2 separate regions of the Homo sapiens genome follow, and region 2 is linked to region 1. Evidence: fine-mapped expression QTL. A gene starts in region 1. The other region holds a variant in brackets. All regions are shown on one strand. Distances are between the middles of the regions. Region 1 holds the start of COPZ2 (coat protein complex I subunit zeta 2). Region 2 overlaps CBX1 (chromobox 1).

Evidence for each region. PIP is the estimated chance that this variant, and not a neighbour inherited with it, causes the effect. A credible set is the group of variants that fine-mapping cannot tell apart.
Region 2: its variant is the best candidate, but not a certain one, in a credible set for the expression of COPZ2 in blood mononuclear cells (TOPMed, PIP 0.71).

What each region holds. Positions count from the first base shown.
Region 1 is chr17:48,034,629-48,039,999 of GRCh38, forward strand. COPZ2 (coat protein complex I subunit zeta 2) reads right to left here and starts at 3,169. Exons shown (of 9, transcript NM_016429.4): 1 at 3,039-3,169; 2 at 2,223-2,297. The coding sequence starts at 3,149. MIR152 (microRNA 152) reads right to left here and starts at 2,619; the gene lies at 2,533-2,619. RefSeq lists an enhancer at 4,286-4,335.
Region 2 is chr17:48,083,958-48,089,289 of GRCh38, forward strand. All of the region lies in intron 1 of CBX1 (chromobox 1), which reads right to left. It also overlaps the pseudogene RNU6-1201P. Among named protein-coding and RNA genes, the nearest start is that of CBX1, 15 kb to the right of the region's middle. The variant G/A (reference allele first, on the strand shown) is at 2,548.

The DNA of each region.
Region 1 (5,371 bases):
ATAATAACAACAGCTACTTTATTATCCCCATTACACGGATGGGGAAACCGAGGCATCAAGAAGTCAGGTAATGGCCTGGCATGGTGGCTCATGCCTGTAATCTCAGCACTTTGGGAGGCCGAGGCGGGTGGATCACCTGAGGTCAGGCGTTCCAGACCAGCTTTGCCAACATGGTGAAACCCCATCTCTACTAATTATACAAAATAAATTAGCTGGGCATGGTGGCGGGTGCCTGTAATCCCAGCTACTTGGGAGGGTGAGGCAGGAGAATCGCTTGAACCCGGGAGGCGGAGGTTGCAGTGAGCTGAGATCGCGCCACTGAACTTCAGCGTGGGCAGCAGAGGGAGACTCCGTCTCAAAAAAAAAAGAAGTCAGGTAACTTCCCCAACATCTCACAGTTGTGAGGCCAAAGCTGGGTTTGACCACTAAGGACGGTCTGACTGCAGACAGGGTTATAGTGAAGATTAAATATCTAAGAAACAATTCCTCACACATATCCCATAACTAAATTAATGTTTTTTGTTTGGGAATGGTGAGCCTCTCTCTCTGACTCAGTTTCTTAATCTGTAGGGAGGAAAAGCCTTTGGCCTTGCTGATCCACCTCTGACCATCTGCTGGGGCAAGGTGTGGTCAGCTCAGTTTTCAATTTTCTGGATGTGGATTTTGCCACTTAATACTCAATCCGCAGGCAGATTAGCCATCTCCCTAGTGGCCGCTGCTTATTTGAATTTCATAAAAACAAAAAACTTTCAGTTCCAAATAAACAAACAGAAAATCTATTTTTTGGGATGGGGTCTCACTCTATAACCCAGATTGGAGTGCAGTAGCTCGATCATGGCTCACTGCAGCCTCAACCTCTCGGGCTCAGGCAATCCTCCCACTTCAGCCTCCCGAGTAGGTGGGACTACAGGCACACACCACCACGCCCGGCTAATTTTCGTTTTTTTGTTTTTTGTTTTTGTTTTGTTTTGTTTTTTGTAGAGATGGGGTGTGCCATGTTGCCCAGGCTGGTCTGGCACTCCTGGGCTCAAGCAGTCCACCCGCCTCGGCCTCCCAAAGTACTGGGATTACAGGCATCAGCCACTGCGCCTGGCCTTACAACACATTTCTTTTCTTTTTCTTTTCTTTTTTTTTTTTTTTTTGAGACAGAGTTTCGCTCTTGTTGCCCAGGCTGGAGTGCAATGGTGTGATCTCGGCTCACTGCAACCTCTGCCTCCCAGGTTCAAGCAATTCTCCTGCCTCAGCCTCTCGAGTAGCTGGGATTACAGGCGCCCACCACCATGCCTGGCTAATTCTTTGTATTTTTAGTAGAGACAGGGTTTCACCATGTTGTCCAGGCTGGTTTCGAACTCCTGACCTCAAGTGATCTGCCCGCCTTGGCCTCCCAAAGTGCTGGGATTACAGGCATGAGCCATCACACCTGGCCTTATAATGCATTTCATAGCTAATGCAGATGCTATAGCTCCCCTACAATTAATTGTGTTGACAGCAGAAATTTATTTTTGGATTATTTTAGTTTGGTTCGCTCAGGCCATGTTTGCTAGGATAGATAACAGCTAATTGAATGGGGGTACAGTGAAAACCACCTTGAGCTTCATGTCAAAAAACCCGAGTTTGCCTGTGAAACCTGTGAAATGGGAGAAGTGAAAAAATTAAATAAGTAAATAAATAAAATTTGAGTTTGGATCTGTTAGGATATTAATACTTGTGACCTCAGGCAACTCACTTAGCTTCTCTACCCCTCATTTTCTTCATCTACGAAATTAAAGAGTTGGATTATACAGTTTCTAAAATCCCATCTGGTTCTAAATCCTTAGACTCCTTAGACTAAATCGTTAGTGTTTACCAAGCTGTAGAACAAAAGTGGAGGTTTAGAGACAAACCCCAAAGAACAAAAGAACTTGTGTGGGGGTTTGGGGACTAAGACTCCTGGGTCCCAGGCTCAACACTCCACTGACCCATTAGGCAGAACCTTCCCATGCCCAGGTCCAACTGGCCAGTAGCAGGATGATAAGGAAACATTTCAGGGAACATGAGTAGAAATAGAGGAGACCCCTCATTTCAGGGAGCAGCACCTTGACAAGGCAGGAGGATGAGAAGGACCTCTGGAGGGGTCTAAGCTGAGCTGCCCTGAGTCACAGAGATCACAGTGGAGTTTCTCCTGAGACAGGAGTGTCAGCTGAGTGGGAACTGTGTCCCTCATGGGTGGGGTCAGAGGTTACCTTGGCCAGCAGCCGGCGCCCGTCATTATCTAGGATGAAAACAGCCTTGATGGTGTAGAGGGAAGGTTCCTGCAACTGACACCGGAGAGGAGAGTTCCGTTTGGCCCCTGACTCGAGGTGGACACCCTGTGTCTATGGGATCTGCTGGCCCTAGGATACATCCTCAGGCCCCAGCAACCCCAGTCCTCAAGGTCCACAGCTGGTTCTGCCCAGCCCTGTGCCACATGGGCCAACCCAGGTGCCCACTCCACTCCCAGGCAGATGTTCCACTGCAGGCCCCGAGTGGGCGCTGTGCCCGTTGGGTGCAGAAGGTCCTTCCGGGCCCAAGTTCTGTCATGCACTGACTGCTCCAGAGCCCGAGTCGGAGTGTATCACAGAACCTGGGCCGGGGGGGACAGCGGGCCGAGCCTCCTTCTTCCAGCTGATCCCTGGCCGGGCTGGACCTGCGCTATCAGCGCGCCCCCAGGCCCTGGCCCGGGTAGACTCCAGAAGCATGCCCATCACCCACCGGTGATGGGAGCCGAGTCTGGGACGGACAGGCCACTCCTTACCCTCCCCGCGGAATCGCAACTCACCCGCCACCCCCACTCCAAACGGACCCAGAACTTCAGCCCCGCGCCGACGGACTCAGGACAGGCCTCCTCTCCGGTCGGCGCTGGGACGAACTTTTCCTCCCGGGTCCTGGGGCCAGTCAGGGGTGACACAAAGTTCCCAGCCGCCGGGCGCGCGAGTTCTGAGTTGGCTGCTCCCCCTAACCCTGCTCTGTCCCTGCCCAGCTCCCGCCGCCCGGGATCCCCGCGCCCGCCCGCTCCGTACCCGCAGCCCCGAGGGCTCCCCGGCTCGAGCAGGCGGCGCCGGGCCCCCGGCCTGGGCCGCCGCGGCCCCCTCCCCCGGGTGCGGACGTGGCCAGGCCTCGGGCCGCTGCATTCCGCTCGCCGCCTCGCACTGACAGCGCCGCCCGCCGCCTGCCCGCCGCCGCCGCCCCGCCTCCGCGCCGCCCCGCGGCCCCCTCTCGCGCGTGGCCTCCCTTTCCTCGGGGCCCCGTCCTCTTGCTCGTTCTCCCCCATCTCCCCTCCCGCCCTCACCCCACCTCTCCTTCCCCCACTTCTCCTCTCCCTCTCTCCTCCTTGGCTCCTTCCCGAGTCCCTTACATCCCCGAACTCTGCATCCTCAGGGTGCCCCAAGACCAGCCCTCGTCCTGCTTCCTGCCTGCTCTCCGGCCTGTGGCTTTGGTGTGCGCCAGTGTCTATAGGCTGTCCTGGGGCCAGCAGCAAACACAAGCAAAGCCCACTTTTGTCTGTTGACCTCTGGTAGGTACCATGAGGACAAATACGTCAGGTCACCCTTTAGATCTCAGGGACAGGGTCTATAAGCAAGAGCAAATGAGGACAGTTCTGGGGACACCCCTCTGTGAAGAGGCTTTCTCATTCCTCTCTCACTACTTGCAGAAGGCAACCATGGGCCCGGAGACACCTCCCCAGGCTCTCCTAAGTCACAGATATGGCACCATCAGAAGCAAGACAGACGCCCAGCAGCACAAATGCTCCACCAATGACATCGGGCTTTGCAGCATGTTTTGGTTTCTTTGGTCTAAGTCTAACTAAGACAAGCTCTCATTTCAGGGTACACTGGCAAGTGGGAAATTCACATCCCAGTGATATGTTAGTGCTACGTATGCATTTACCGGTAAAAACACTGTGCGTGTATTTTACATTTGACACCTTCACATCCATTATCTAATATAGCCCACACCTGTAAGATAGGCATAATGGACCCTCATTTTAAGCAAAGAGAGACTCAGAGGTTGTGTGACCTTTTCAAGACTATACAGCTAGTTGACTGGGGATAGAACCCAGATTTTTGACTCAAAATTTCTTCCCTATTCTTCTCTTCAAGCCCTCTTATGTTGTGGACCACAGTCACTTACCCTAGATGGTTACAGAATGGGGTTTTCCTCACTGAATGCATCAAGTCTTCTTATCTTCAAGCCTCTGCTGAAATATAATTACCAAAAGGTCCTCCTGACAGCCACCATATCTGACTTGATAGGTCTCTCCTGTCACATTCTCTCAGTTCCTATTTCTTTCTTTCATTGCACTTTTTTCAATCTCTAAATATTATTTTTACTAATATTGCTTGTTTGAGACACGGTCTCACTCTGTTGCCCAGGCTGGAGTGCAGTGACTCGATCTGGGCTCACTGCAGCCTCAACCTCCTGGGCTCAGGCAATCCTCCCATCTCAGTCTCCCGAGTAGCTGGGACCACTGGTGCATGCAACCACTCCCAGGTAATTTTTTATTTTTTTATTTTTTTTATTTTTGTAGAAACAAGGTCTCAAGTCTGGGCTCAATGGCTCACATCTGTAATCCCAGCACTTTGGGAGGCTGAGGTGGGCAGAAGGCTTGAGCCCAGGAGTTCCAGACCAGCCTGGGCAACATGGTAAGATCTAGTCTCTACTAAAACTACAAAGAAATTAGCCAGGTAGGGTGGTGTGACCTGTAGTCCCAGCTACTCAGAAGGCTGAGGTGGGAGAATCACCCGAGTCTGGGGGTTCAAGGCTGCAGAGCCATGATCATGCCACTGTGCTCCAGCCTGGGCAATGGGAGTGAGAATCTGTTTCAAAAAAAAAAAAAAGAAGAAGAAGAAGAAGAGAAAAAGAAAGGAAGAGGAGGAGGAGGGGGAGGAGGGTGATCATGATCAAGGTCTCACTATGTTGCCCAGGCTGGTCTTGAACGCCTAGGCTCAAGTGATCCTCCCACCTCAGCCTCCCAAAGTGTTGGGATACAGGCGTGAACCACCATTCCCAGCCTTTACTAGTTTGTTTATAAGTGTTCCTTCTCCCCGCCCAGACTTTGAGCCCTGCAAGAACCAATGAATGTGACTTTTTGTTTGTTTGTTTTTTTGTTTTGAGACAGGGTCTTGCTCTATCACCCAGGCTGGAGTACAGTGGTGTGATCATAGTTCACCGCAGCCTCAAATTCCCAGTGTCGGCCGGGCACGGTGGCTCACGCCTGTAATTCCAGCTCTTTGGAAGGCCGAGACAGGCGGATCACGAGGTCAGGAGTTTGAGACCAGCCTGGCCAACATGGTGAAACCCCATCTCTACTAAAAATACAAAAAAATTAGCCGGGGGTGGTGGCAGGTGCCTG
Region 2 (5,332 bases), 49 kb after region 1:
TGCCAGGTACTATTACAAACACTTTACTCATTTATTTAAAAAATTTTGTTTAGACACAGGGTGTCGCTCTGTTGCCCAGTACGGTGGCCTGATCATAACTCACTGCAGCCTCGACCTCCTGGGCTCAAGCCATCCTCCCAAGTAGCTGGGACTACAGGCTTGTACCACCAAACCTGGCTAATTTTTTCAATTTTTTCTGGTGGAGACAAGGTGTTCCTATGTTGTTCAGGCTTCTCTTTCTTTCCTTTTTTTTTTTTTTTTTTTTTTTTTTTGAGACGGAGTCTTGCTCTGTTACCCAGGCTGGAGTGCAGTGGTGCTAATCATCATGCTCACTGAACCTCCGCCTCCAGAGTTCAAGCGATTCTCCTGCCTCAGCCTCCTGAGTAGCTGGGATTACAGGTGCGTGCCACCACACCCAGCTAATTTTTGTATTTTTAGTAGAGACAGGTCGCCATGTTGCTCAGCCTGGTCTCCAACTCCTGACCTCGTGATCCACCCGCCTCAGCCTCCCAAAGTGCTGGGATAACAGGCGTGAGCCACTGTGCCGGGCGCCAAGCTTCTGTTAAACTCCTGGCCTCACACAATTCTCTCGCTTTGGCCTCCCCAAGTGTTGGGATTACAGGCATGAACCATGGCGCCCTGCCTACTCATTTATTATTTACAATACTCCCGGCCGGGCATGGTGGCTCACGCCTGTAATCCCAGCACTTTGGGAGGCTGAGGTGGGTGGATCATGAGGTCAGGAGATCGAGACCATCCTGGCTAACATGGTGAAACCCCGTCTCTACTAAATGTACAAAAAATTAGCTGGGCGTGATGGCGGGCACCTGTAGTCCCAGCTACTTGGGAGGCTGAGGCAGGAGAATGGTGTGAACCCAGGAGACGGAGCTTGCAGTGAGCCGAGATCGCGCCACTGCACTCCAGCCTGGGCGACAGAGCGAGACTCCGTCTCACAAAAAAAAACAAAAAAAAACCAATACTCTCAAGAGTTACTAGTTGAAGCTAGTAACTGAGTTGACTGGACTACAAATAGGGGAGTATGGTTTTACAGTATGTACTCAAACCTCAGTTTGAGATCCTCAGTTGTCCTACTTAGCCAACTCGTATGGTTTATATCACAATATTGTAAACAAAGAAATCTAGCATTGCCATAATTTTTACCTAAACATTTGCTGAGTCTGCTACATTTGAAGATTCCTAGAAAAATAATACTTTACATTTGCATTATACTTTACAGTTTACAAAGTGCTACCACATTATCTCATTTAATCTTCAAAACCATCCTGTGAGATAAGCCATTCAGATGTTATCTCTGCCTCACAAATAGACCAAATTTAGATGAAATAGATCACCTAAGGTCACACAATTAAACGAAGCACTGCACTTCAGTAAGGCCATCTAGCAAGGCTAGGCTAAATGCCCTGTTGAACACATAAAACTAGCAGCTAGCCAAAAACCTACAGGGTAACATCCCTCCAGCCTGTATAAGGAAAGGACACAGAGGTCTCTTAAGATGACTCCTCCCTACAATTTGTCACTGGTAAATAAGAAAGTGACTGGTAATGATTTTTCTCAGAAAAGACCTTGAAAGGTATGGCTCTGTTAAAAAAAAAAAAACAATGATTTTTAATTGGTTTCTGGAATATGAAGGTATTCATTGTTTATTAAACCTGCAGACAGAAACAAAGCTGGGTTTTTAATGCCCCAGCAGTCTTTTGAGTCTTTTAAATTGACAAGTGCTACATAGTGTAGAATTTTTTAAGTTAAACATCTAGCAAGCAGACTAGAGAGAGAACTACTGAGAAAATGTCAATTTTAAGAAACCAGGCCAGGCGCGGTGGCTCACGCCTATAATCCCAGCACTCTGGGAGGCTGAGGAGGGCAGAATCACCTAAGGTCAGGAGTTCAAGAAAAACCTGGCCAACGTGGCGAAACCTCGTCTCTACTAAAAATACAAAAAAAATAGGCTGGTCACGGTGGCATGCACCTGTAGTCCCAGTTACTCGAGAGATTAAGGCATGAGAATTGCTTGAACTCAGGCGGCAGACATTGGCAGTGAGCCAAAATCACGCCACTGCACTCCAGCCTGGGTGACACAGCGAGACTCTGTCTCAATAAAAAACAAAACAAAACAAAAAAAACCCAAAACTTGTTTACAGTGTCCCAAGGAATCCAGGAACAGTGTAAATCTGAATCAAGAGTAATTAATTCATAGCTCAATTTTAAGAGAAAGAGTACTGTTGTGATTTTCCTCACCCACCCTCCACCCCTGCACTGAGGAGCTAGAAAATGTAAAGAAGCAACAATGCTACTTGACTGCAGAAGGCAGTAACATAACAGACACAAGCTTAGGCATTTCATTTTGGTTTGAAATAGTTTGTACTGTGAAAGGGTACGAGAAGGCTTCAAGAAGCCAGTATGGCCACAGCTCTTGGCTGCCACCATAAACATGAACTATGAAGTGCTATGCTAGGAACTTCCACGATTCTGATTTCTTGCCAGTTTGAAAAACCAAATTATAAATGTGAGGCCATGGTAACACCTACA[G/A]ACCTAAGAAACTAAACCAGTAGGGTTTCTAGCTAAATGCCAAGGTGAGGCATTTAAAATGTTGGTCAGGGCTGGGCATGATGGCTCACACCTGTAATCCCAGCACTTTGGGAGGCTGAGGCAGGCAAATTACCTGAGATCAGGAGTTTGAGACCAGCCTGGCCAACATGGTGAAACCCTGTCTCTACTAAAAAATACAAAAATTAGCTGGGCGTGGTCGTGCACATCTGTAATCACAGCTACTTGGGAGCCTGAGGCAGGAGAATCACTTGACTTCAACCCAGAAGGCGGAGGCTGCCTTGAGCCTAGATCACACCACTGCACTCCAGCCTGGGCTATAGAGTGAGACTTCGTCTCAAAAAAAAGAAAACGAAAAAGAAAAAAACAATAAATAAACAAAAATGGCCGGGCGCGGTGGCTCACGCCTGTAATTCCAGCACTTTGGGAGGCAGAGGTGGGCAGATCACAAGGTCAGGAGATCAAGACCATCCTGGCTAACATGGTGAAACCCCATCTCTACTAAAAATACAAAAAATTAGCTGGGCGTGGTGGCGGGTGCCTGTAGTCCCAGCTACTCAGGAGGCTGAGGCAGGAGAATCAGTTGAACCTGGGAAGCAGAGGTTGCAGTGAGCCCAGATCGCACCATTGCACTCTAGCCTGGGCAACAGAGTAAGACGCCATCTCAAAAAAAAAAAAAGAAAAGAATTCAGAGGAAAGCGAACTCTGAGTCAAGAACCTTCACCTCTATGAGAATCAGAATCACCTATGGAGTTTAGAAATACAGATGCCTGCCTGGGTGTGATAGCTCACGCCTGTAATCCCACCACTTTGGGAGGCGAGGTGGGTGGATCACGAGGTCAGGAGTTGAGATCGGCCTGGCCAACATGGTGAAACCCCAGTCTCTACTAAAAATACAAAAATTAGCTGGGCGTGGTGGTGTGCACCTGTAATCCCAGCTACTCAGGAGGCTGAGGCAGGAGAATAGCTTGAACCCGGGAGGCGGAGGTTGCAGTAAGCCAAGATCATGCCATTGCACTCCAGCCTGGGCAACAGAGTGAGACTCCATCTCAAAAAAAATTTAAAAAAAGGCTGGGCGCAGTGGCTCATGCCTGTAACCCCAACACTTTGGGAGGTCAAGGCAGGCAGATCACTAGGTCATGAGATCGAGACCTTCCTGGCCAACATGGCAAAACCCTGTCTCTAGTAAAAACACAAAAATTGGCCGGGCATAGTGGCACACGCATGTAGTCCTAGCTACTTGGGAGGCTGAGGCAGGAGAATCACTTGAACCGGGGAATCAGAGGTTGCAGTGAGCTGAGATTGTACCACTGCACTCCAGAGCCTGGCAACAGAGCGAGACTCAGTCTCAAAAAAAAAAAAAAAAAAGAAAACAGAAAAAAGAAGAAATACAGATGCCTAGACCCCACTCCACAGCGAATACATGAGGAAGTGGTGTTTTTAAAGCAGTTAATTTTTTCTAATTAAAATCATATATTAACATTCAATTACAAAAATATATAACGTGGCCAGGCGCAGTGGCTCACGCCTGTAATCCCAGAACTTTGGAAGGCCAAGGCGGGCGGATCACAAGGTCAGGAGTTTGAGACCAGCCTGGCCAACATAGTGAAACCCCCATCTCTACTAAAAATACAAAAAATTACCTGGGCGTGGTGGCAGGCGCCTGTAATCCTAGCTACTTGGGAGGCAGAGGCAGAAGAATTGCTACAACCTGGGAGGTGGAGGTTACAGTGTGCCAAGATCGCGCCACTGCACTCCAGCCTGGGAGACAGTGTGAGCCTCCGTCTGAAAAAAAAAAAAAATTTATTTTTCTTGTTGCCAGGTGCGGTGGCTCACGCCTATAATCCCAGCACTTTGGGAGGTCGAGGTGGGTGGATCACGAGGTCAGGAGTTCGAGACCAGCCTGACCAACATGGTGAAACCCCATCTCTACTAAAAATACAAAAATTAGCCGGGCGTGGTGGCGCATGCCTGTAATCCCAGCTATTCAGGAGGCTGAGGCAGGAAAATCGCTTGAACCCGGGAGGCGGATGTTGCAGTGAGCCAAGATCACGCCACTGCACTCCAGCCTGGGCGACAAAGCGAGACTCCATCTCAAAATAAATAAATAAATAAATAAAAATTTCTTACTTTTGATTTTTTTAAAAAAATACTTAAAAATATGGACTGCTTCATGAATTTGTGTGTCGTCTTTGCATAGGGGCCATGCTAATCTTCTCTGTATCGTTCCAATTTTAGTACATGTGCTGCTTAAGCAAGCACCAGTTTACCATTTTATACAATGCAATGTATCTTTGACATTATTCCATAAAGATCTCCATCCCTAACAGCTGCCATAGTATTCCATTGTATGGTTTCCTTTATTATAATGAAGAATGCTGTTTTGACATTGGCAGCGAGCCAAAATCACACCACTGCACTCCAGCCTGGGCGACACAGCAAGACTGTCTCAATAAAACACAAAACAAAACAAAAAACCCCAAAACTTGTTTATAGTATCCCAAGGAATCCAGGAACAGCATAAATCTGAATCAAGAGTAATTAATTCATAGCTCAATTTTAAAAGCTGGCATCTGCATCTTTTTTTTTTTTTTTTGAGACAGAGTCTCACTCAGTCGCCCAGGCTGGAGTGCAGTGGTGTGATCTCGGCTCACTGAAAGCTCCACCTCCCAGGTTCACGCCATTCTCCTGCCTCAGCCTCCCCAGTAGCTGGGACTACATGTGCCTGCCACCACGCCCGGCTAATTTTTTTGTATTTTTAGTAGAG